Regions from separate parts of the Homo sapiens genome. Here all the other regions are linked to region 1. Evidence: fine-mapped expression QTL. A gene starts in region 1. Each other region holds a variant in brackets. All regions are shown on one strand. Distances are from middle to middle. Region 1 holds the start of PCMTD2 (protein-L-isoaspartate (D-aspartate) O-methyltransferase domain containing 2). Region 2 has its middle 48 kb from the start of PCMTD2. Region 3 overlaps PCMTD2 (protein-L-isoaspartate (D-aspartate) O-methyltransferase domain containing 2).

The links. PIP is the estimated chance that this variant, and not a neighbour inherited with it, causes the effect.
Region 2: its variant is fine-mapped to the expression of PCMTD2 in whole blood (INTERVAL, PIP above 0.99).
Region 3: its variant is fine-mapped to the expression of PCMTD2 in whole blood (INTERVAL, PIP above 0.99). The same link has a PIP of 0.9 or more in subcutaneous fat.

What each region holds. Positions count from the first base shown.
Region 1 is chr20:64,252,541-64,260,727 of GRCh38, reverse strand. It overlaps PCMTD2 (protein-L-isoaspartate (D-aspartate) O-methyltransferase domain containing 2), which reads right to left and starts at 4,980. Exons shown (of 6, transcript NM_018257.3): 1 at 4,858-4,980; 2 at 456-786. The coding sequence starts at 762.
Region 2 is chr20:64,299,376-64,307,562 of GRCh38, reverse strand. It overlaps the pseudogene SEPTIN14P20. Among named protein-coding and RNA genes, the nearest start is that of PCMTD2, 48 kb to the right of the region's middle. RefSeq lists enhancers at 4,331-4,831, 4,832-5,332. The variant A/T (reference allele first, on the strand shown) is at 3,992.
Region 3 is chr20:64,275,873-64,284,059 of GRCh38, reverse strand. It overlaps PCMTD2 (protein-L-isoaspartate (D-aspartate) O-methyltransferase domain containing 2), which reads right to left. Exons shown (of 6, transcript NM_018257.3): 6 at 7,834-8,187. It also overlaps the pseudogene IL9RP5. Among named protein-coding and RNA genes, the nearest start is that of PCMTD2, 24 kb to the right of the region's middle. The variant G/T (reference allele first, on the strand shown) is at 4,865.

The DNA.
Region 1 (8,187 bases):
AAAAAAAAAAAAAAAAAAAAACCAACAAAACAAAAACTGCTTAGAAGTACTCCGAAAGGACTTTCAAGTTAATTACCATCGATTTAGAGAAGGAGTGACAAGGAAGAATGAGTGATAAAATTAAATCGAGAAATCACAGTGGGGTCAAGATTTACACAACTGTCTTTATCCTCCGCTGTCCAGAGGGCAGGTGCGCAGTACAGGCTGTGGCAGCACAGGAAGAGGGGACAGAGAACAGGAGAGGTCCCTCTGGAGAATCCGGGGCCCATGAGATGCATGCAGGCCTTCCTCCCTCATCCCTCTATCCACCACCCAGTGATGTGTCAATGTCAGATAACTACTGGGAAGGCTGCGGTCTCGACCCAGGCAGGCCATTAGCAGACTACATTTTCTGTCAAAGGAGATGCCTCCTTCCCTGAGACAGATGAGTTTTCAGACTCTCCTTCCACACTTACCTAGAATGAGGCCCACCATGGAGCTGAGATACCCAGTGCCACTGCCCAGGTTCAGAAACGAGAGTCCAGGCTGCAGATCTAGGGCTTCCATCACCTCCGAGTAGATGCACGGGGCTGAGAGGTGAATGTTTCCATGCTTCCATGCCAAGTCTTTATAAGCATTTTCTTTAAATTCTTCAAGATAATAGTCTGCACGATCGATAGCTCTGAAAGCCTGCTCTACCAGCTCAGTCCGGATATACTGTGCTTCTTTCAAATTATCTATCAGCTCATCATTGTCTTCACCAGCACTCACAGCACCGCCCATGTTCAAGATTACACTTAGGCAATACTATAATTAAAAATGTTTAAAAAGAGCGATTTATGTTAAAGGTAAGAGCAGAACAATAGAAGTTCTAAACAGATACCAATTTGAAATTCTGAATTCTGAAAATAATAGATTATCTTTTGTCAACACCCACCTCATCCCCTGCCCCACCCAGAGATGCCAGATTTAGAAGGAAAAAAAATCCCAGTTCAATTGGAAATTAAGGTAAACAACAATACTAAAAGTTATTTGACGTTTATTTGAAATTCAAATTTAGGCCGGGTGCGGTGGGTCATGACTGTAATCCCAGCACTTTGGGAGGCCGAGGCAGTTGGATCACCTGAGGTCAGGAGTTCAAGAACAGCCTGGCCAACATGGTGAAACCCCGTCTCTACTAAAAAATACAAAAATTAGCCAGGCATGCTGGTGGATGCCTGTAATCCCAGCTACTGGCGAGGCTGAGGGAGAAGAATCACTTGAACCCGGGAGGCAGAGGTTGCAGTGATCAGAGCTCGTACCACTGCACTCCAGCTTGCGGAACAGAGCAAGACTCTGTCTCAAAAAAAAAAAAAAAAAAAAGAGAAAAGAAAAAAAACTTTAGGTGGTGTCCTATATTACATCTGGGAATTCTATATCCCCAACATACACAAAAGTACCCACCCAAGTCAAGCAATCCATCTGACCTGTTGATTTGGATATTTTGATGTTCAAATTTTAGACAAAAACAGCAAGAAAACACTCTTCCCAAATTGAACGTACTGTGACAAATACCTTTTTCTAACAAATGCAAAATCAGCTTCCTGGCTAAAGTTTAAGTGTAGGAGGGGCTGCTACCAGAACTTCCTACAGCCCCTCCTCAATTGCATGATACGCAGCTTTCCCAGCTCTTTAAAAATAACAACTACTTGTCTTACCTTCTCCCAACCTGCCTTCAAGAAGAAAAAGCACAGCATGTGTCACCTCTGAGCCTAACTATTAAAATACAGGGTAGCTTCAGCTAATTCACAAGAAAACACTTTTTCACGCGGAGAAGTCTTACTCTTCTTAAAACTACAAAAATATCCTTTCCAATTTTATACTTACCCCATGTAACTTTTTCAAAGTAACTGCTTTAACTTCATATAAAATGGTAATGCTTTACAAAACACCAGATACAAATTGTCAGGGAAAAAGACCACCAGACCTCATGAAGACATTTTCTGAAATGAACACAACCTTTTTAACAACTTGTTATAATTATGATGAAGTTTATACTTGCTTTCCTCCTCACATTCCTCTGGATTTCTAACAGTAGAATGAGGATCGTAAAGAAATACTGTGGGGTGACAAGGGGCCTGGGGCGGATTTCATACACACCCACGTACACAACTGGAGACAGCGGTGGGAGGTTTTCCCAGGAATGAAAATAATCACATAGTTTCTTACAAGTGAACAAAAAGTGTGAAGGGTATAGCTTAACACAAATTCTCTTCTATTTTTATGGTGGAACACTCAATCTTCACACTCAAGATTTTAGAGCTGAATATTAGGTTTTGCAAATCAATAGGATGGTCCAGTCATTAAATTTTCACACCCTTTTTGAATTTTTTGAATTGTTTCGGAGCCCTTGTTAGATTACGGTCCACAGCCAGCTGACTTAGACTTAGATGGAATTAAGTCCTAATGAGGTCAACTTTAATCCTGGATAAGCCACTCAGTTCTGAGGCTGCACCCTAGCCTACCACAGTCATCTTAAAATTTGGGTCAGTGGTTAAAAGCGGAATCATGTGTTTGGATGCTTAAGGGTCTATTTAGGAAAAGAGCTGGAAAATCGCATACCGTCCTCAGTCAAAGCCACCTCTTCACCCAGAAGCCTGTATATAATGTTCCAACATTGTCTCAATGCCACATCTCTAGAAGGTAACCTCAAACTGTATGTTGGATAGGTTTCATTTTCCACTAAGTAACTATCACTTATTTTGAACTCTGCCTTAATTTGAAAGTTCAGACAGCTTTTTAGTAAAAACAAGCACCTTTTTCCAGGTACCACCTGCCAGTCATGGCCTCATTTACACTTCACAACATTAAGAAGCAAATTGGAGCTGGCCGGTTAATTTGTTCATGATCACATAGCCAGTTTGTGAGGAGGGGGCTGCATTCAAACCCAGGACTGTATGGCAAAAGGCCTGTGTTTTTAATACCACACCAGTGCAGCTTTTAAAAATACTCAAGACAGCAACGTTCTTTACCACACAACACACCGGTAACCTTTTGACGATGGGGTAACCCTATCTATACCTATTGCCACTGGTAGGATCCATGTGAATAGCTGTGGGGTCTGATATTTATTACCATCTTTGTCTGGTAATCTAACACTCCCTCGCACTGAAAACCATCGATATGATCAGTCATGATGTCACCAAAAACACCGACAACAAAGCTCTTCGCCAAACCAAATCCTATCATTTTCACCCAGATTCTACAATCTGGTCAAATCCAATTTTTCAAAGTAAAAGTGTAGAATCATTTTTAGAACGCTGCACTCGATGATACTGTGCACATTGTCTGCTGTAATTAATCCTTAATATAATTCACTACTCTGTGGTAACTAGCAACAGTCCATAACAACCTGGCTGCTCCTTACAATGCGAACTGCCAGGGCACATGAAGAACACTTGCTGAGTGGCGACAGGCATGGGAAGGTCTCAGAACTGACACCTGAGTTGTGATTGTGGCTGTGTCAACACAAGCATGAAGCTATGGTAGTGGGGTTTTGGGAGGCGACATACGGAAGATCACATTCCAACTTGGATGTCACTTCTTTAGGGTAATATGGACAAAGTAATTCATTGTGGAAGATGAGTGGGGAAAAGGACCCAAAGCCACATCTCCTTTGGGCAGAATGATCAAACAAACACACAAACAGATTTCTCACCTTGAAAACCAGAACTCTTACAAGCAATGCAAAGGGACTTTTTTCAAATACAGATGGTCTCCGACTTCGGATGGTTCGACTTCAGGTTTAACGATGTGTTTACTGGGATGCGACCCCACCGTAAGCCGGGGAGCACCTATACTTGAAAGGCTGTCACATGTACACTATTAATGGGCCTAACAAAAGCCAGACCAGTGGTACATGTTGGAGACAATGCCTACTAAATACACAGAGAAGCTTTCTAACAAATGAAGTTGCAATGAATGAAAGGAGCTCTTGATAAGCCCAGCCAAGTTCCACTGGAGGTACGAGCTGGGGTGGCGCAGGGAGCAAGGCCCTGGATCGGTCACCTCTGAGGTCTCCTCTCATCACCTGAGTGTAGGGCTCTATTTCCCCCAAGCGTGGCCACAACAATTTCTGAGTTGCTTATAGGCACCTCAACTTCACTCATTCTTGAATGACAGTCTATCAAACGCCCAGATAGGAGCTGTTTAGCCATTCCCTTGAGAAGAAAAATGAAAACTATTCTAGTCACACGAGTAAAGAGGGGGTGGATAAAGAGGGCGTGGATATTTAGGTGACTTATTTGAGGTGCAACGCTGGAGCAAACATTCATTTAGGAGACACGTCCCTCTCACAAAAACAAAACAAAGGCCCGAAGCTCAGGCAAGTTCTCCTTCCTCCAACTAACAAAGATCTCTTTCCATGCGTGAATTGAAGTCCCAGTGCTCTGCTCCAATTCTTACTATCTCCAAGGCACGGGGCGGGGGGGCGCAATTATTTTTTTAAAAAATCCTGTCATCTTCTGAAAGGGTCCAAGGCAGACTTTGTTCTAAACCTTAGCTCTTGGCTTGCCTTGGAACTGCAAACGTTTCCCACTTGGGAAGTCAAAGACAAGCTGCAGGTCTGGACTAACCAGACCCAAGAGTGTGAGTGAGCAACGGGCACCGGGAGAGACCGACGGGAAACCGCGAGCGCTCGGAGAGAGAAACGCGGGACGCCCTGGAGGCCGCTGGGGGGAGGTGAGGGTGCCCGAGGTGGGGAGGAGCGACGCCCCCAGAGGAGAGCTCCGGGCGCAGGGGTGCCGGGGGTGGGGAAGGAGGAGGGAAGGGGCCGAGGGGACACACCACCCGCTCGCCGCAGGCCGGACCGAGGGGCGGCGGCGGCGGCGGCGGCTCTACCTCCAGGCTCGGCCGGCCGACGGGTTCGGACCGCCTGGGCTGCCACCTGCAGCTCCTCGGGCGCGTCCCTCGTGTGTCCGCGGCCGAGCAGCGCCGCTCCAACCTCGGCCGCCGTAAACATCCGCCGCCGCCGCCGCCGCCGCCGCCTCTGCGCCTGCGCACAACGGCCTGACTGCGCATGCGCCGCGGGCCTGGCACTTAAAGGGGTGATGGCGGCGCAGGGCGGGCCCCACTCCCCTGGGCTGCCTGCGTCCGCCCGCCCCGCTGAGAGCTCGCTGAGCCCTAGGCCGGGTCCGAGTCTCGCGGGCGCGCCGTCCGCGCAGTGCTCAGCCAGGACGGACCCCGCACGGGCTGCCTCAGAAGCCCTCCCTAAGGGTCACCTGAGACGCCTTTGCTGACCCACGGCTGGGGGCGTTCCGCATCTCCAGGGTGCCCTGCGGCTGCTGACTCGGGGCCGGCGCTGCCCTCGGGCGGCCTCCCAGCACCAAGCACAGCCGCCCTGGGACCCCCGCCCTGCCACGCGGACGGCCACCCGGCCCTGGGGCCCTCCTACCCAGCCGGCTTTGTGAAATCAGCTGTGAAAGGAAGATATCCTGGGCCCCCAAGATCACTAAGGAAAACTCCAGCAGGAAACTGCTTAGGGCAGGCCTGCTTCCCATTCCATTCAAAGTCACTCCTCTGCTCACTTAGATAGATACATATCTGATTTGCCTCCTTTGAAAAGGCAAATGAGAAACTCAAAAGAATTTAACCGTTGGTGTCTCACCTATCTGTGGCCTGGACGCTCCCTCCCCGCTTGGAGTCTTCCTGCCTTTGCTTCAAGTTGTCCCGTCTTTCCAGACCGAACCGATGTGCTTCTTACATGTATCGATGGATGTATCCTGTCTCCCTAAATGTATAAAACCAAGCTGTGCCCCGACCACCTTGGGCACATGTCAGGACTTCCTGAGGCTGTGTCACGGGCGCGTCCTCACCCTTGGCAAAATAAACTTTGTAAATTAACTGAGACCTGTCTCCCATTTTCTGGGTTCACACAGCCCATTGCCCAAACTTCGCGTGGGGCTTTGCAGATAGGCTGTAGCTGCAGAACCCTTTCTTCAAGCACAGCCATGCAAGCCGCCTCATATGTGCAAGTGCCAGCGTCGCTGGGGCGGACGAGTGGGCCTGGGTCTCCGGTTCCCGCCTCCCTCCTAACTCGGCATTCCTCCCCAGACCCTGGAGCTCCACTTAGGAGCAGAGTTTGAAAACCAAAGGCCGGTGCCTTCACCACGTTATGTGGTCCCAGGGAGACCTCACTTCTCTTGTTGATCCATGGTCCTGGATCCACGGACCTGAGGTGGCCCACCACCTCATGACCTTCATGGGGCTCTCAGTGTCCTTCCACCTGAGAGCTTGTGGTTATTTGTGACTGTTTCAAATTACAGAAGCCCTGGAGTCATCCTTGACTCTCTTCCTACTGCCAGGGGACACGTCCTCCATACATCCCTCCTTGCCCTGTCCCAGCTCCCCTCACCTCTCCCCACCCCTCCCACCATTCCCCTGGGCTCTGGCGAGTGGTCCTCCTAAAACAGGTGATCACATCACTGCTGTCTTCAGACACTCCCTTTGTTCCTGGACCCAACTGAGGGTCGGGCTACTACTTCTCCTGGCCCAATAACAAGATGCAAATGAGCTGGAGAGTAAGAGAGGTTTTATTTCTGTAACCGGTTACAAGGAGAAGGCCTGGAAATTATCACCATACCAACTCAAAATTACAAAGTTTTCCAAAGCTCGTATACCTTCTAAGCTGTATGTCTACATGTAAGTGTGCATTCATCTACAGACATAAGTGATTAACTTCTTTTAATCTATGACTAAGGTTGAGTCCTGAAGACCCTCTTCTGGAGCCTCAGTAAGTTTACTTAATCTAAATGGGTCTAGGTGCTGGGGTGATTACCCTTATCTTGTCTCCTGCTAAATCATAATGATATGGGGAATTCCTTTAGACCCCCATAAACTTGTTTGTGGAGGCCTGGGGAGTTTCTTCAGATCCCTAATACAACTTGTTTAATCCTAAAAAGGGTCCTGTTAAGAGTTCCTTCGTTATCTTGTCATGCTTCAAGGCCCAGGAAGAGCCTAGGCAAAACTCTTGGTGGGCTCTTTGTTACATTCCAACCTTTGTATAAGGGCATTGGCTCAATCAGCTTTTAATGTTTAACCTGGCTACTCAGTCCGTGCTGGGACAGCTGTAATGGAGGCCTGCGTTAGTGAGACCCGGCCTGCCACAACTTCAGACTCTTGCTTGGTTTTCCAAGGTGTCTCCACCATTCCCCTCCACATCAGCTTCCACTACCATCAGCATTCATAACCCTTCACAGGGTATATACTGAGCACTCTACATGGGTTATTTCCATGAAATAGGTACTAGTATGACCTCCAAGAAGAAAAGTGGACCGTGACATCAGGAGCTGGCCTGGCACTCAGATCGAGGCCATGGGGTCTCCTGTTGGACATAAATAATTTTGTAGAGGAGCACCATCATGATCCAAGGCCACGTCATAATTTTGTCTAAGCACAAACAAAAACAGGGTAACTGTGCCACCCACAAAATCTAAGACATATCATCTCCAAGTTAGTAACAATGACCCCCGCTCCTCTACCAGCTACAGCTGAGCCTCCCTCTGCCCTGGCCTCCTCACAGATAACATCTACTGAGATGCCCAGAGAACCACCCTTTCCCCCCATCCACTCCCCCAATTCCTGACAGCATCTAATCCATGAAAAAAATCACCCAACTCAAGCCCATAACCTTTAGTAACTTTTCCCGACACCTCTTACTGAGATGCCTTGCAGTTCTCCATGATCTGCATCCCTCTCGCTGCAATGAGTGATAATCCCAACTCATTCAATTACAGGCAGGTTCCTGGCAGCCTTTGGCTTGACGACACTGATACCTCCATTTTACAGATGAGGGAACTGAAACTGCAAGAGGTTCGCTGGCTTCTTGTACTTACCAGCTAGTAGTAAGCACAGGAAGGTGGATGGGAATCCAACTGCTGCTGTCACCCTCCTCCAGGCTTCTCCCACACCCAGCCACGGGGAGCTTTCTGAGTATGTCTTCAGTGTCCCCTCGCCTATCCCCTTGCATCTCTCCACTCATCTGTGTTGTATCTGCAGGAGGAGCCTCGGACGGAGGGAAGGTCATGCAAGGGCCTGAGGCAGGGGTGCGGCTGGGTATCTGGGGAGCAAGTAGCTAGAGCCACATGTGGGAGGTTGTGTTGTTGTCTTCGAAATACACTATTCTTACTATGGTAAAGTATACAAAACATTTATCATTTGAACCATTTTTAA
Region 2 (8,187 bases), 47 kb before region 1:
GTAGTATTTATAGTAAAAGTGAAATTTTTATGATGGCTTGAGAAACTTTTCCCATTAGATGCCCAAGTGCTGTTCTGGTCTGATCTTCTCATCTTCCCTTGGGTGATTCTGTGGCAGTCACACTAGCCTCCTTGATGCTCCACAAAAACTCCAGCATGATCCTACTTCAGGATACTTGCCATTGTTACTGCATCTGCCTGGAACCTTTTCTCCCATATAAACATAGAGATTGCTCTTGCCTGTCCTTCAAGTCTATTCTTAAATGTCCCATTCTCTGTGAAGCTTTCCTGCCCACCCTATTTAAATTACAGACTTCACTCCCAATTCCCCATCTACTTTAAGAGTCTTCATTTATCATTCCTTGACAAACTGTAAATATACATGTTCACTTTTTTATCGTCTGTCTCCAAATACTGGAATGTTAAGTTCTGTAATGTCAGATATTTCTGTTTGGTTCACTGGTGTATTCTTAAAGCATGTTACATACTAGGTATACTCAATGAATATTTGTTGAATAAATATCACATTGGGCTTATTCCAGAAATTCAAGCTTGTTTCAATAGTTAGAGCAATCTACAAATGTAATTCATTACATTAACTAATTAAAGGAGCTAAATCACATCACTACCACAATAATGCAGAAAAACACATTTGATACAACTCAATATTCATGTCTGCCTAACAAACATCTCATGATACTAGGAAAAGAGGAAGGGATATATTATTTTCATGTATAAAACACTAACCATTGTAGCATGCCAATATACTCAAAATTCAATGAAATTCCTATCAAAATCTTAGCATTCCTCTTAGTCCTCAACAAAGCATTTCTAAAATGTGTATAGAAGACCAAAGGGCCAAAAGAGTCAACTTCTGAAGAAGTGGAAAAAGAAAGTTGAGGAAATCTTAAAACATGTTATTGAGCTTAAAGTTGCAAAAATAAACTCATGTACCATAATTCATGAGTAGAAAAATAGACTAGTGGAATAACATAAAAATAAAAACAATGCTTACATAAAATGTTGTAACTGATTTGGATGTCATTAGAAATCAGTAAGTAAATAGATGGACAATGTAATGAAAGATGCTAGGCAAATAATGTGGTAGGGAGAATAATGGCCCGCAAAGATGCCCATGCCTAACCCTGGAACCTGTGAATATGTTACACTGAATGCAATAAAGGCTTATCAGATGTGATTAAGGATGCAAACCGAGATGGAGAGATCTTCCTGGGTTATCCAGATGGGCCCAGTCTAATCACATGAGTTCTTAAAAATGGAGAACCTTTCTTAGCTGAGTCCAGAGAGAGATGTGACAATGAAAGAATGGTCAGAGAAATGTGACATTGCCAGCTTTAAAAAGAGAGAGGAGAGGCAATGAGAAAAGGAATGCTGATGTTCTCTAGAAGATAGAAAAGGCCAGGATATGGATTCTACCCTAGCCGCCATAAAGAAACATGCCTGTCGACAACTTGATTTTAGTTCACTAAAATTCATGCCTGATTTCTGACTTGTGTACACTGTAAGATGACAAGTTTGTGTTATTTTAGGTCACTTAGTTTGTAGAAATTTGTTACAGCAGTAATAGAACAAGTGGTTATCCATATGAGGCAAATTAGATTGGATACCTATCTCCAATAGAAATCAATTCAAGGTGAATTCCAGGAAAATACTTAAAACATTTAGATTAAAAATAAATGAGAATTTTTGTTACTTTTGGTAGGTCATAGAACCAAGAAAAACAAACATTAAGGAGGAAAAATGAACATATGACTACATCAAAATATAAAGCTTCTCTATTTGGATGATATCATAAGGTGACAAATCATAAACTGTAATATTTGCAACATATATATGAGTGAATATACATTTAGAATATATATGAACTCCCAAAAATCAACAGGAAAAATAAGACACAGAACAAGCAAAATGCATAAACAAAAGAAGGCAAAACAAAAATAATGACTCATAATTATATGAAAAGAAGCTCATCTTCATAGATGAGCAGATAAATGCAAATTAAAAACACCCTGAGATGCTTTTTACATCCATGAGCCTGATAAAAGTTAGAGTCTAAAAGTAATAATTAACAAAGATGGGAAGTAACAGAAAATCTTGTCCATTACTGGTTAAAGTATAAACTGATACAGCTACTTTATAGAATATTACATTATAGAATAAAGTTGTGAGTATGTATATGCAGTGACTCAGCATCTTCATTGCTAGTATGTACTCAAGAGAAACTTACAGGAGTGGACTAGGAAGTAAATACAAAATGATTACAACATTGTTTGTTATATCAAAAAATAAAAAAGACACCCAATTTTCCAGCAAAAAAAATAAGTAAAAATAAATCCTGGTGTATTCTAACAATGGAATAATATATAGCCATTAAAATAAATCAACTATTACTGTACATATGAATGTAAGTATCAGCAAAACATATTGTTTAGTGAAAAAGTAAGAAGCTGAAGAAGAATATATACAATATGGTTACATTTATATGAAGTCCAAAAACTTGCAAAATAAAGAAATGTATTTAGAAATAGATTCACATGTGAGAAAACTAGAAGAAAATTAATGAAAGGATAAAAGGGATAGCAGTAATTCTGAGTAGTTGAGGGGATTTCAATTGGAAAAAAATAGTATCATATTCTTTAAGTCAGGTAGTGGGTATTAGCATTTGTTTTACCATCGTTCTTTATTCTTATAGCTACACTATATATTTTCAATGTATTTAATGTATTTTTTGCATAATTAAATATGCAATAAAAATGAGAAAACAAAAAAGTAGAAAATGATAAATTACAATAAAGAAATGGAGAAAAATTATAATCTAGTTGAGTAATGGTATATTACATAGCTATTTTCTTAAGTAGATGTATGTACATGATGTATGCACGATTGTACATACATGTTCTTAATTATATATAAATATATATGTACATATTTTTAATATAAAATACTAAACAAAGTACACCAAAATATTAGCTCCTATGTTAGTGAGATAATGTTTTTTTTTTTTGTATTTTAAGTTTTACATAGTAGGTGTATTTATCTGTTTTCATACTGCTATAAAGAACTGCCCAAGACTGGGTAATTTATAAAGGAAAGAAGTTTAATTGGCTCACAGTTCAGCACAGCTTGGGAGGCCTCAGGAAATCTACAATCATGGCGGAAGACAAAGAGGAAGCAAGCCAGCTTCTTCGCAAGGCAGCATGAAGAAGTGCCGAGCAAAGGGGAAAGAATCCCTTATAAAACCATCAAATCTCGTGAGAACTCACTATCACAAGAACAGCACAGGGGAAACTGCCCCCATGATTCAATTACCTCCACCTGGTCTCTCCCTTGACCTGTGGGGATTATGGGGGCTATGGGGATTACAATTCAAGATGAGATTCAGGTGGGGATACAAAGCCTAACCATATCAGTAGGCATGTGTTGAATTTTAAACTCAGAGAAAAATACTAGTGTTTTTATAGGATTCTTACTAAAGAAAAACCAGAAAGTAATAAACCATCTACGCTAAGACATAAAATTCAGTTGTTTAGTTACAAGATAGAATGTGGCCTTGTAAGAAAGCAAATTAACTTCTAACATCCAAAGCCTTAGAGAAGATTCAAGTGACTGACGGATCTTAAACAGAGCTATTATTACAACTCAAACTGCAGTAAAATATCCTCAGCAACATAGATGTGTGTGTTTCACTAGTCAGATCAATACAAATTTAATGAAACTCCATTGGTGGTGTTTTTAATCAGACAATTTCTGAAGATGTCCTGGCTTATTCATAGATGCAAGCCAAATCTCTAGAAGAGTACCATAATAAGAAAAAAAAGAATACAGGCAATTGAGAGCTGTTCCAAAGTTTAGGGAGTTTTTGTAAGGAATTAATAAATAAAAATGTTCTAGAAAGAGAGAAATTAATATGCAGTTCATACTGCCAGAATTGCAGGCAATTTATCAAACTCCCCTAATCCTCCAAAATCGCT[A/T]TTTTTTTTTTTGACACACACTTTACAGTACAGAAGAAAATGTCTCCGGCAATAAATCACAGTTAAAATTACCTAGTCTACAATTAACTACACAGTGATGGTAAATCATTTTCTACCAAAAGAAAGAAATGTCTTGTCTATTCAGGTTCTGCTCTACTTAAAAGTTTTCCTTGTTGGCGAGCAAGTGGTTAGAAAATCATATTTTATACGTACATTCAGCTTAACTATCATTCAGCTCAGGAAGATGACTCAGGGCCTTATCCATACCTTCAAGTTTGCTCTTAGAAAGTAATTGTTTCAGTATCTGTATCAAAAATGGCTTAAGTCTGCAATATGTTTCTGAATGATTAACAAGGTGATAGTTCTTCATTGAATCCTGGATGCTTTATTTTTCTTAATAAGAGGAATTCATATGGATCAGCTAGAAAAAAATTAAGAGGAAAATCACATGGAAAGTTATATATTATATATCTATTATATATATAATATTATATATCTATTATATATAATATATATCTATTATATATATATTATATATTGTATATCTATTACATATATAATATTATATATCTATTATATATTATATATCTATTATATATCATTTCCAAATTCCCCAGCGTTCACATTTGTCAGTGCAAGTAAAGAGCCTTAGTGCTGATGAGGTTTGAGGTATGACCATTTGGCCAGAATTTATGAACTCTACATGTCGCTTGATGTGTGCTTCAGGGTACACTTTTTTTTTTTTTTTTGAGACGGAGTCTTGCTCTGTCGCCCAGGCTGGAGTGCAGCGGTGCGATCTCAGCTCACCGCAAGCTCCGCCTCCCGGGTTCACGCCATTCTCCTGCCTGAGCCTCCCGAGTAGCTGGGACTACAGGCGCCCGCCACTATGCCCTGCTAATTTTTTGTATTTTTAGTACAGACGGGGTTTTATCGTGTTAGCCAGGATGGTCTTGATCTCCTGACCTCGTGATCCACCCGCCTCGGCCTCCCAAAGTGCTGGAATTACAGGTGTGAGCCACCACGCCCGGCCAAGGTACACTTTTAAGCAGAGACACTACTTTGAAGGTCATAAAAATATAATAAGAGATAAGGCTAATTTCCTTTAATAATAATAATAAAATCCTTTAATAAAAATATAAAGGAATAATAATTTTCTTTAATAAAATATAATAAGAGATAAGGCTAATTTCCTTTAATAAAATATAGTAACTACATACCAACAGAATTCCAAAAAAAGAAATGGAGAGGAAGGGAGCATGGGTCATTAATCTTGTCAAAAATATAAAATTATATACGAGGAATTCCTAGAAACTGTTTTCCTTGTCTGCGGCCATTGTGCTGCTGCTACACAACTACCGCAAGCAGCCCTTCACGCCCTCCTCCCAGTACAAAGCTAATTGACTTGTGAGAAATGTTAAGCTTGGAAGAGTCAGCATCGCTGCACTTATTTTTTATTCTACTCTGACATTAGAATAATCCTTGAGTGGGGGAAAGGTTAAAAACCCCCCTGGATAAGTGTTACTAATTAATGATGATTGTTTTAAACAATGTTTGGATAATTTTTCCTTGTCCCTTGACATAAACTTGATAAATAACTGAGAAGTGAGAAGGAGATTAGTGGGTTGATTAAATTCCATTCAGGTACTTCAAGTTAGCTCCAAAAATTTAGCTATTTATAAATTGTCATGCATTGTTAATGTATAAGAGATGTAGATTTCATTTATCTTTGGTGGAGCGAGATGAAGCAGTGAATCATTGAAGACTGAAAGAAAGAAAAAGGTCTTTTCCCTTTTCTTTAAGAAGCATCATTAGTTAAAAACATGTTAGTTGATACCAGAGAACTATATTTAAAGGGACAGCAATAAGCAAATTGATTACTCTGGTGATTATTGGAGTGACATTGCCTTTTAGTTGTACTTTCACAAAAATTCACAATATTTGCCAAAGTCAAGTTATCCATTACACTATTAATTTGTCATTCTTTTGTTTATATAGTCAATATCTCTATCTCAATTGGATCTATCTCAACTGCTTCTAAACAAGCCACCATAGTCTCTCCCATTTCAACAATCTCTTCCAAGTACCATTTCATTTCTTCTTTTCATATTTTTGAAAACTTTTGAAAAACTACCTATTTTCCTCCTCCATTTCTTGTTCATTCCATTCTAGTGGACATGGAATCTGTTCCTCCTCCAAAACGGAATTTGGTAACCCTTAAATTACTAAACCCAAAACAATATGTTGTTTTTATCTTTACCTCTCTGTGGCATTTAATGATAAGACCACTACTTTCTTCTCTTTTACCCTTCTTTCTTGAATTCAGTCAAACAACGTACTTACATTTTTCATCTTATTCTCCATCTTAGAAACCACCTCAGCTTTCTCCATTCAGCCATAAAATTGTGCTTTTCCTCAAAGATTAATCTGCCTCTCCTCTCACTCTATACTATCTCTGTTAGCTAATTTTATTTGCGCACATTGCTTATACTGGGCATTATATACACATATGCATGTGTGTACATGTGCACACACACACTGTATGTGGACATGTATATATATATGTGTGTGTGTATATATATAGTATATATATAAATTACAATAACATAAAGGTGGCATTTTAAATTAGTGGAAATTACCCTGATTTGATCACTACACATTCTATACATGTAAAGAAATATCACTCTGTATCCCAAGAATATGTACAATTATGGTTTGCCAAATGAAAAAGTTCATACATTGAAAAATTTTAGATAAATATCAAACTTTCTCTGAAACTGTAACTGTAAAATGTAAAAAACAGTAATTGCTATATTGCTTATTTTTGAGTAGAATATGAGACATTTCCCTAATCATTATGTGTAATTACAATTACATATATATGTTTATATATTACATACATATATATATATATGTAATTGTAATTACACATAATGATTAGGGAAATGTCTCATATTCTATATATATAGACAGAGAGAAAATATATGAGGGAGAGAAAGAATCTTTCCATCTCCTTTGAGTTCCACGGTGTTGAGAGTCAGGACAACTGCAATTGCTTCATCATGCCTGCTTGCAATTATAGGGCTTTTGAACCATTTGTTCCCTCCTTAGATATCCTCATTTTTTTCAGATTCTTGCTTAGAAGTCACTCCTCCGTGGACCTCCTCTGACATATTAAACATTGCAGTCCATTATAAGCTGCAAGAGGACAGGGATTTTTGCCTGTTTTATTCCCTACTGTATCACCAGGGGCTACAGCAATATCTGACAAACAGTGGGCATGTAATGAATATTTGTTAAGTGAAGTAATAAATTCAATCAAATCACATCACCTGTTTAAGGCACTTCATTGGCTTCACATTGCACTTAGAATAAAGAGAAATTCTTTTTATACAATATAAGTTCCTGCAGAATGCAGACACTTTCTACTTCTCCAGCCTCTTTTCGACTCCTCTCCTACTGGCTTCTGTATTTAAGCCACATTAGACCTTTCTTCAGTTTTTCATATAGACTTTGTCGCATCACACCTCAGAGATTCTGTACATGTTCTTCCTCCTGCCTAGAAAGGGTCGTCCCTCCACTTTCGCCAACTAATCCCTGCTCAACTTTTCATCTCAGCAGGAGGCCCATTCTCTTTGGCAATCCTCTGGCCTCCAGCCCATTTATTATATGCTCACATGTCAACATGTACTTCGTACAGCATGTAACACAATTGCACTTTTATATTTTAACAAATTATATTTCCCATATTGAACTGTAAGTCTCCTGAAAGGTGGAATTTTGTTCTTGCTCATCATCAACTTTTTCAACATCCAGTGCACCATTTAGAACTTAGATGTAGTCAATACAGGTTTGTGGAATGAAAGAGGAAAAGAAAGAATTAATATTCCTTTAAATTAGGATGGCAAAGATCGTATATAGAAAATTGGCTAAGTTGTGGTCCATTCATGTTTGCTCCCAATTAAGGAGCACAGCTATGAAAAGGAAGGCTTCAAATTAATAACCAATAGATTTTTAAAAAAAGAAAACTGGCCGGGTACTGTGGCTTATGTCTGTAATATCAGCATGTTGGGAGGCCAAGGCAGGATTACTTGAGCCCAGAAATTCCAGACCAGCCTGAAAATTTGGCAAAACTCTGTCTCTACAAAAAATACAAAAATTAGCCAAGTTTGGCGGCATGTGCCTGTAGTACCAGCTAC
Region 3 (8,187 bases), 23 kb before region 1:
ATTCCAAGATGATTATTTTGAAAAAAAATGCTAACAAAGGAAGTTCCAAAACCAGAGTAGAAGTTACCCTTCTGTAAGGAAAATTTACATCTATAAAGGAAATCCCCATTTAAAAGCTACCTCTCTCTCGGCACCAAGAAGAGAAGGATAACTAAATCACTAGAGTCTTATCAATGGAGGACGCATGGACTTCAGTCTGCATAACAAACGTTACTCTTGTCTAATGTGGTTTTGCTGGTTAACTCCCCACTACTGTGCCTCAAATCTTCAAGTTGAAGATAGTATTTACACTTGAATTGAAAACCACCTGCTGGAGATTTACTCATTTTTCCCTGAGTATCGCCCATGTATCCATAAGGTATACATGTTTTTAAACTTTTCTACATTTTTCTCATTTTAATCTGTCATTTGTTACAGAGGGTCCAATCTAAGAATTCTGAAAAGATAGAGAGAAAATTATTTTTCCTCACCTATTACAAGTTGGGCAGTTTTTTCCAAAGCTAAATAAGTCTCTCCTTACAATCCAAAAACGACATTCCTAAGTATTTTGACAACCACTTTGATGTGATTTCCAAACAAAAGCTACCATGCAATTATGTACAGAAGCCCTATTCATAATGACCAAAGGAAAAAAAGGAATCAGAAAGTCTTACAATAGATGACTGTGTGGGAACCCCCTCAGACATCAAGAGTTATTATAAAGATTATTTAAATGAAAACATTTGAGATACCGAAGATGAAGGAAGAAATCTTACCAGAACTTACTTTATCCAATTAAAGCACAGCTCCCAGAAAATACAGCTGCCATTAACCCCATCCACGGAGTTCCTTGCAAATTCAGCTGCCGTTAACCCCATCCATGGAGCGCCCAGAAAATACAGCTGCCGTTAACCCCATCCACGAAGTTTCTTGCAAATTCAGCTGCCATGAAGATAGACTGCTCATTCCCATTAGCATTGATAAATGAAAATGAAATCCTAAGCTCCCAGCTGACTGAACAGACCCACTCTTGGCTGAGGGGACCCCAGAGTAACTTTCAAAACTGAGTTCTCAGCTTGGCCAGAATGGGATGATGGGAGTCAGGTACACCCCATTATACCCCCTGCTTTGCAAACCATGATGAGGCTTTCTTCCCTAAGGATTTAACAGAAACCAGCCCTTTCAAAATCACCACTGATATCAACCTCTCCTTTCTTGCCTGATAAGAGACCACCCATGACGGAGAGGTTCTGGACAGCACACAGAGGATGCACAGAGCGAGTTTTCATGTCCTCTGCTTCACCTTTTAATGTCAGAGGGCTGAAAACTCCACCCTGGGATGATGCTAACACTGCTATTTTTTGTACATGGGACCCATGAAGAACCAAGGAACTCAGTTGTGCATGCACGCATTTCCCCTTTCATAAATATTCATGACTCCGCCTAGAGCTTATTAAAGATGTGTATTTGGCCATGCCACTCAGCATAAATTACTGTTTCCTTCACCTCTTCCTTGAAGTGTCTTGTTTCTAGTTTCTGGCTGGAGGCTATGCTTCCCAGCCTATCAGAAGGACTACCCTGCAGGCTGCAACCCTTTACAGGAAATAAATACCTCACTGGGTGCAGTGCCTATAATCCCAGCACTTTGGGAGGCCGAGGCAGGTGGATCACCTGAGGTCAGGCGTTCAAGACCAGACTGGCCAACATGGTGAAACCTCATCTCTACTAAAAAAACAAAAATTAGCCAGGCATAGTGGTGAGGGTCTGTAATCCCAGCTAATCGAGAGGCTGATGCAGGAGAATCACTTGAACCTGGGAGGTGGAGGTTGCAGTGAGCCAAGATTACGCCATTGCACTCCAGCCTGGGCAAGAAGAGTGAAACTCCGTCTCAAAAAAATAAAAATAAACAAAAATATAGAAATCTCTCCTTTCCATATTTATGAACCTCATCATTCTTTAGTTGACAGCATTAAAAAGTTCAAAAAGACCTTCCATACTCTCCCACAGAAGCCCTAGAAATTGTCATTTTGTTAATCATTTTGGATGCTTGAGAACTGAGAATCTGACAGTGGCCTAGTATCCGGAATATACAAAGAACTCTTACAACTCAAGAACAAAAAGACAAACAACCCCCACCCACCTCCCATGCAAAATGGGCAGAAGAATTAAAGACACTTTTCTCCAAAGAAGATACAGAAATAACACATGAAAAGATATTCAACATCAGTAACCATTAGGGAAATGAAATGCAAATCTAAACTACAAAAAGATACCACTTCATACCTATTAGAATGGTTATTACAAAAAAAGAAAGAAACAGAAACTAACATGCAGTGTCAGGAAGTAGAGAAACGTGAACATTGCTGATGGGCATGTCATATGGTGCAGACACTGTGGGAAATAGTTTGGTGGTTCTGCAAAACGCTAAACAGAATTACCATAGAACCCAGCAACTTCATTCCTAGATATATATACATAAAAGAATGGAAAAGAGGTATTCAAACAAAAACTTGTATACACATGTTTATAACGGTGTTATTCACAATTTTAAAAAGTTGGAAACAGGCCGGGTGCGGTGGCTCATGCCTGTAATCCCAGCACTTTGGGAGGCAGAGGCGGGCGGACCACCTGAGGTCAGGAGTTCAAGACCAGCCTGGCCAACATGGTGAAACCCCATCTCTACAAAAGTACCAAAATTAGCCGGGAGTGGTGGCAGGTGCCTGTAATCCCAGCTACTCGGGAGGCTGAGGCGGGAGAATCACCTGAACCTGGGAGGCAGAGGTTGCAGTGAGCCGAGGGCACGCCATTGCACTCCAGCCTAGGTGACAAGAGCAAAACTCCATCTCAAAAACAACAACAACAACAACAAAACACAGCCCAAATGTCCACCAACAAATGAACAGGAAAGTCAAATATGGTCTATTTCTATAACAGCATAATATTCGGCTGTGAAAAGGGTTGAGGCACTGACATTACAATGTGGACGAACCTCAAAACATGCTAAAAGCAAGAAGCTGAACACAAAAGGTCACATACTTCATGATTCCATTCATGGAGAATATCCAGAATACGTAAATCTACAGAGACAGAAAGCAGATTAGTGGTCGCCGGGGGTCGGAGGGAGGGCACATTGGGTAGCAGCTGCTTAATAGGTAGGGGGCTTCCTTTTGGGGTTTTGGAACTAAGAGGTGATGGTTGCACAATATTTTGCAGGTTCACAATGTCACTGAATTTTACATCTTAAAACAGTTAATTTTATATTATGTGGATTTTACCTGAATAAAAAAACAAAATCCCACCCCAGCATTCCCTCACCAGGGTGAGCCCTCTTCCCACATGCTCCCTTAGCCTGGGGTTCAAGGCCCTCCACAGCCCAGCGCTGTCTAGGCCTGGCCAACCACATTCTGGACACATGTCTGCCAGCTCCTAAACCCATGGCCGTTTCCTCATTCCAGATCCAGGTCACCTTCTCTCGCCTTCACAGACACCCAGGGATCAGCAACACCTCAGGGCTCACAGGGCCCTTTGAACCTTGTCCTACTGTAATCCAGACCTTGACACATGGTCTCCAAGGGTTGTCCCATCTCAATAAAAGGAAATCAGAGTTTTCTGAGCACCAACGTGTGCTGGTGTCTTGCTCAGGTGAACTCCCTGCTATCTATAGCTAGTCCCCTGTGCAGAGCGGAGGGCCAGGCTCAGGTGGCTGAGTGACTCACCTGACCTGCAATCCCACAGCCTCCAGTGGCTTCACACTCAGGTTCCAGCCCAGAGCCAGGGCTCCAGGTGCCACCCAGGGAAAGTTTGTGAGTCAGATGAACGTGTGTCCAGCCCACACAGGAGAGGCATTGAAGCTGTGCGGTCACTTTTGTGATCATGAGGTGGTCCAGGCCCCATGAGAAACCTGATGAATCAGGCAGACCCTGTTTATGTACACCAACCCAAGGCTCCCCAGAGGCCAGCTCCAGGAAGTGGATTCACACTAGTATTTGATACTTAGTTAGAGCTGAGGATGCCTGAACCTTGCTTCCGTCCACACCCTCCCAATCTCTGGATGCTAAAGATACATTCTCAGGCCTGCCTCAACCCTGCTGACCAGGATCTGGTCTGAGGCTCCCCACAAAACCTCTGAGACTCCCCACAAACCTCAGGGGCTCGAAAGGCACACAGGGTGGGGAGGATGCTTATCGGAGCCAGGCTTTTGCCTTTGGGGGGCCTCGGACTGCAAGTACTTTTTTTTTTTTTTTTTGCCCAGGCCACAGGGAGCATGGGAACTCCCAGGAGAGGTGTTCCCTGGAGCCTGGGGTCCAGAGAGGGACCCAGCCTCTGTTTTACCCTGCCTTCAAAACTTCAGCACCCCCAACCCCATAATAGTCTCATCCCAGCCCTCACTGGGCAGAGGATCCCAGCACCAGCCCCATCCCCAGCAGTCAGGCCCTCCCGTGATCTGCCTGGGGCACCCTGGAAGGGGCCATGGTGCCTTTGGGGCCAGCAGGAATGTGGAGATCACTGGCAGAGGCAGGGACAAGGTTATAGGTTGAGTTCCATCCCTAACAATTCATATGTTGAAGCCCTAACACCCAGTACCTACAAGTATGGCATTATATGGAAATAGGGTCTTTGCAAATGATGAAGTTCGGAAGTCATTAGGGCCATGCTTCATTCATGATGATTATGTCCTTATCAAAAGGGGAATGTGGACACAGAAACACGCACAGGGAAGAAGGTTTGTGAAGACTGGAGCTTTGCTGTCACAAGCAAAGAAACTACCAGAAGCTGGAGAAAGGCCCTGGAACAGATGCCTCCCTAGGGCCGGCCCTGCCAACACCCTCATTCCAGACTCTGGACTTCAGAACTTCGAGACAACAGATCTCTGTGGACCAGGAGG[G/T]ATGGGGTGGAGGTGGCCTCCCTGAAGATGTTCCCTGAGTCTCCACCCCACTGTACCCAGAGCTGACCCTGAGCCTCCATCCTGCTGTCACTGGAGCCTGGAAAACCCAGGGCTGCCCAAACCCCGTGCCTCACATCTCCCCGGGCTCCTCCTCCAGCTATCAACACTTTGGAACAGCCGTTATGTCCCTTTAATCTCTAGGAAAGGTGCCTCAGGAAGGCACAGGAAGAGGCACAAGATGGTGTCTCAACTGTGTCCACTGGGCCCAGGCTGGCCCTTTAAGGAGGTGAGGGCAGGCCGTGGGATCACATCCCTCTTCTCAGAGAGGCCAGGGATAAGGCCAGAAAGGGGACAGGAGGAAGTGTTGGGGCGGAGGGGTGGCAGTGCTGTGGGAAGAGGATGCTGAGGGCAGTGGCCCCTCCCCACAGGTGCCAAGTGGAGTGGGTGAGGAGGAGCCTTCAGCCTCCATCTGGACCAGACCTCTAACCATTGCATAGGTGCCACTTCTTGGGAGGTCCAGTCCCAGCCAAGGGTCAGCTCCAGAGATTTTATTTTCCCCAAAATGGACATGATGCAGCTGGCTAAGTCATGGTTCTAGAACTTTCAGGAGTGACCCTGCTACCTGATAGGAGTGAGCAACACCCCCTGGAGGTCCTCATGTAGCCCGTGCCTCTGCCTGTGACCAGCTACCACCCAAGCACCTCCTCACACAGTCTCTGGGCCCTGCTGGTCACAGGAAAGGCTACCGGCAAGGGCTGGGATGGCCCAGGCTCTGCGTGTTTCCTGGGATGGCAGAGGGGTGGCCCCCACCACCTTAGCGGATCAAGGCACAGTAGTTACTGCTGCTGCCCTCTGAGTCTGGGGGAGCTGGCCAGGTGGGGGATATGGGGCATTAAGACAGCCCTGATCTCTGACACAGAACAACAGGCCTGGGGCAGGGCTCATGCTGTTCTCCCTCTTGACCATCAGAACAACCACCTAACCACCCAGTGCCCAGCTGCCCAGGGCCCTCCTAGATCAAAGGGATGCCCTGCCCGTGTGGTCTATGACTCCACCCCTGCTCTAACCACCCAGTGCCCAGCTGCCCAGAGCCCTCCTAGATCAAAGGGACGTCCTGCCCGTGTGGTCTGACTCCACCCCTGCTCTAACCACCCAGTGCCCAGCTGCCCAGGGCCCTCCTAGGTCAAAGGGACGTCCTGCCCGTGTGGTCTATGACTCCACCCCTGCTCTAACCACCCAGTGCCCAGCTGCCCAGGGCCCTCCTAGGTCAAAGGGACGTCCTGCCCGTGTGGTCTATGACTCTATCCCCGCTTTCTGCTATTTCCTCTTTCATGCAGAACCTCAAGTGCTAATTTGGACATTCTGGTTCCAACATAGTGGAGCAATGGGTTACATCTCTGTCTCCAAGAGAAAGAGAAGGGAAAAGACATAAGCACAAGGTCCACAGTTGTTCAGAGCATCTCTGTCTCCAAGAGAAAGAGAAGGGAAAGACATAAGCACAAGGTCCACAGTTGTTCAGAGTCAGGTTGCAAGTGGAGCCCCTGGTGACGGGCATCTGACAGAGAGCTGGGGCACAGCAGGGTTAGGGTTAGGATGAGGTTTGCAAGGAGCTCGAATGGTGGGAGAGCATCCTGATGCCCAGCAGCAGCAGGGAACCAGAAGGAAGGGGTTTCTGCAGACGGATCAAGGAGGCTCACTGATTCCCAGAGACCATTACCCTTCATATGTCCAGGCCCCTGGCTTGAAGACCAGCTCTCCTCATCCCACTATGAGGTTGGCCAATGACTGTCCCTACTCCAGCCTGGTTTGTAATTACAGACAGGCAAACGTGAGTCTCCAACAACAGTTAAAAAAGAAAAAAAAAAAGAGATACAGCAAGAAATGAAAGATCAACATGATCAAACTGATAAATCACCTCTAGAGGAGTAAGTCCCCACATCCCTTCCTCTTTCTGGCCGTTTCCTTCTTTGTTCAAGGAAGGGCCAGAATCCACGTTCCCACCTCCGATGAAGTAAAATTTTTAAAAATTCTAATTAGGATCCTCAGAAAAGTCTATAGTACTGCAACCACAGAAAATAACAGTATATGCAGGTGTGATGATTAGTACTGTGTCAACTTGATTGGCTTGAAGGATGCAAAGTATCATTCCTGGGTGTGTCTGTGTGGCTGTTGCCAAAGGAGATTAACATTTGAGTCAGTGGACTGGGAGAGGCACACCCACCCTCAGTCTGGGTGGGCACCATCTATTCAGCTGCCAGCTCGACTAGGATAAAAGCAGGCAGAGGAACACGGAAGGACTGGACTGGCTGAGTCTTCCGGCCTCTATCTTTCTCCCATGCTTTGCTTCCGGCCCTCGAACACAGGACTCCCAGTTCTTCAGCTTTTGCACTCTTGGATTGACACCAGTGGTTTGAAAGGGGTTCTTGGGCCTTCAGTCACAAACTGAAGGCTGCACTGTCAGCTTCCCTACTTTTGAGGTTTTGGGACTCGGACTGGCTTCCTTGCTTCTCAGGTTGCAGATGCCCTACTGTGGGACTTCACCTTGCGATCCTGTGAGTCAATACTCCTTAATAAACTCCCTTTCATATATATATATCTATCCTATTAGTCCTGTCCCTCTACAGAACCCTGACGAATACAGCAGGAAGGAAAATTCAGAGATCAGTAAAGAGAGCATGAAATTATCTTAAAATATATAACTGCCAAAATAAAAAATTGGAAGGCAGAATGTAAAAAATATCCCAACAAGCACATACAATAAAAGAGAAAACATAAGCTCTTTGGGAGACTGGTCCCAGAATTTCAAGATCTAAATAACATCTGTGCTCTGAACAGATAACTGAGAATGAAAAAAAAATATTTTCTGCCCCTTAGAAAGTTGAATGTGGGAAAATTATGCCAAAAACGTTAACCGCAATCTTCAAGGCCCTATTCTCTTATGTACTTGGAGCCAGCCACTTCTCCATTTGTCCATTCCAATTTCACATTTATTAATGAAAAATAATGCCTTCTCTACATCTATTGTGACTGTCACAGAATCAAGCAGTAATACAAATATTTGCTGAAAGTAAACACATGATGTTAATAAAGAAAAAAGGTTCTTTTCTTAAGATTTTGAAAAGAACATATTCAAGAATTGGAATCCTACACAGGATGCAGAAGCAATGCTAAGGATAAAATATCCTGACTACCTTTATTGACATGATTTGTGTTTACCAGCTCATTAAAATCTATGTTTCAAATTCCCTGGATTTTCCCAAGTTCCAGACTGGTAAAAAGTATTTTTACATACACATTTGATGCTCACATTACAAACTTAATAT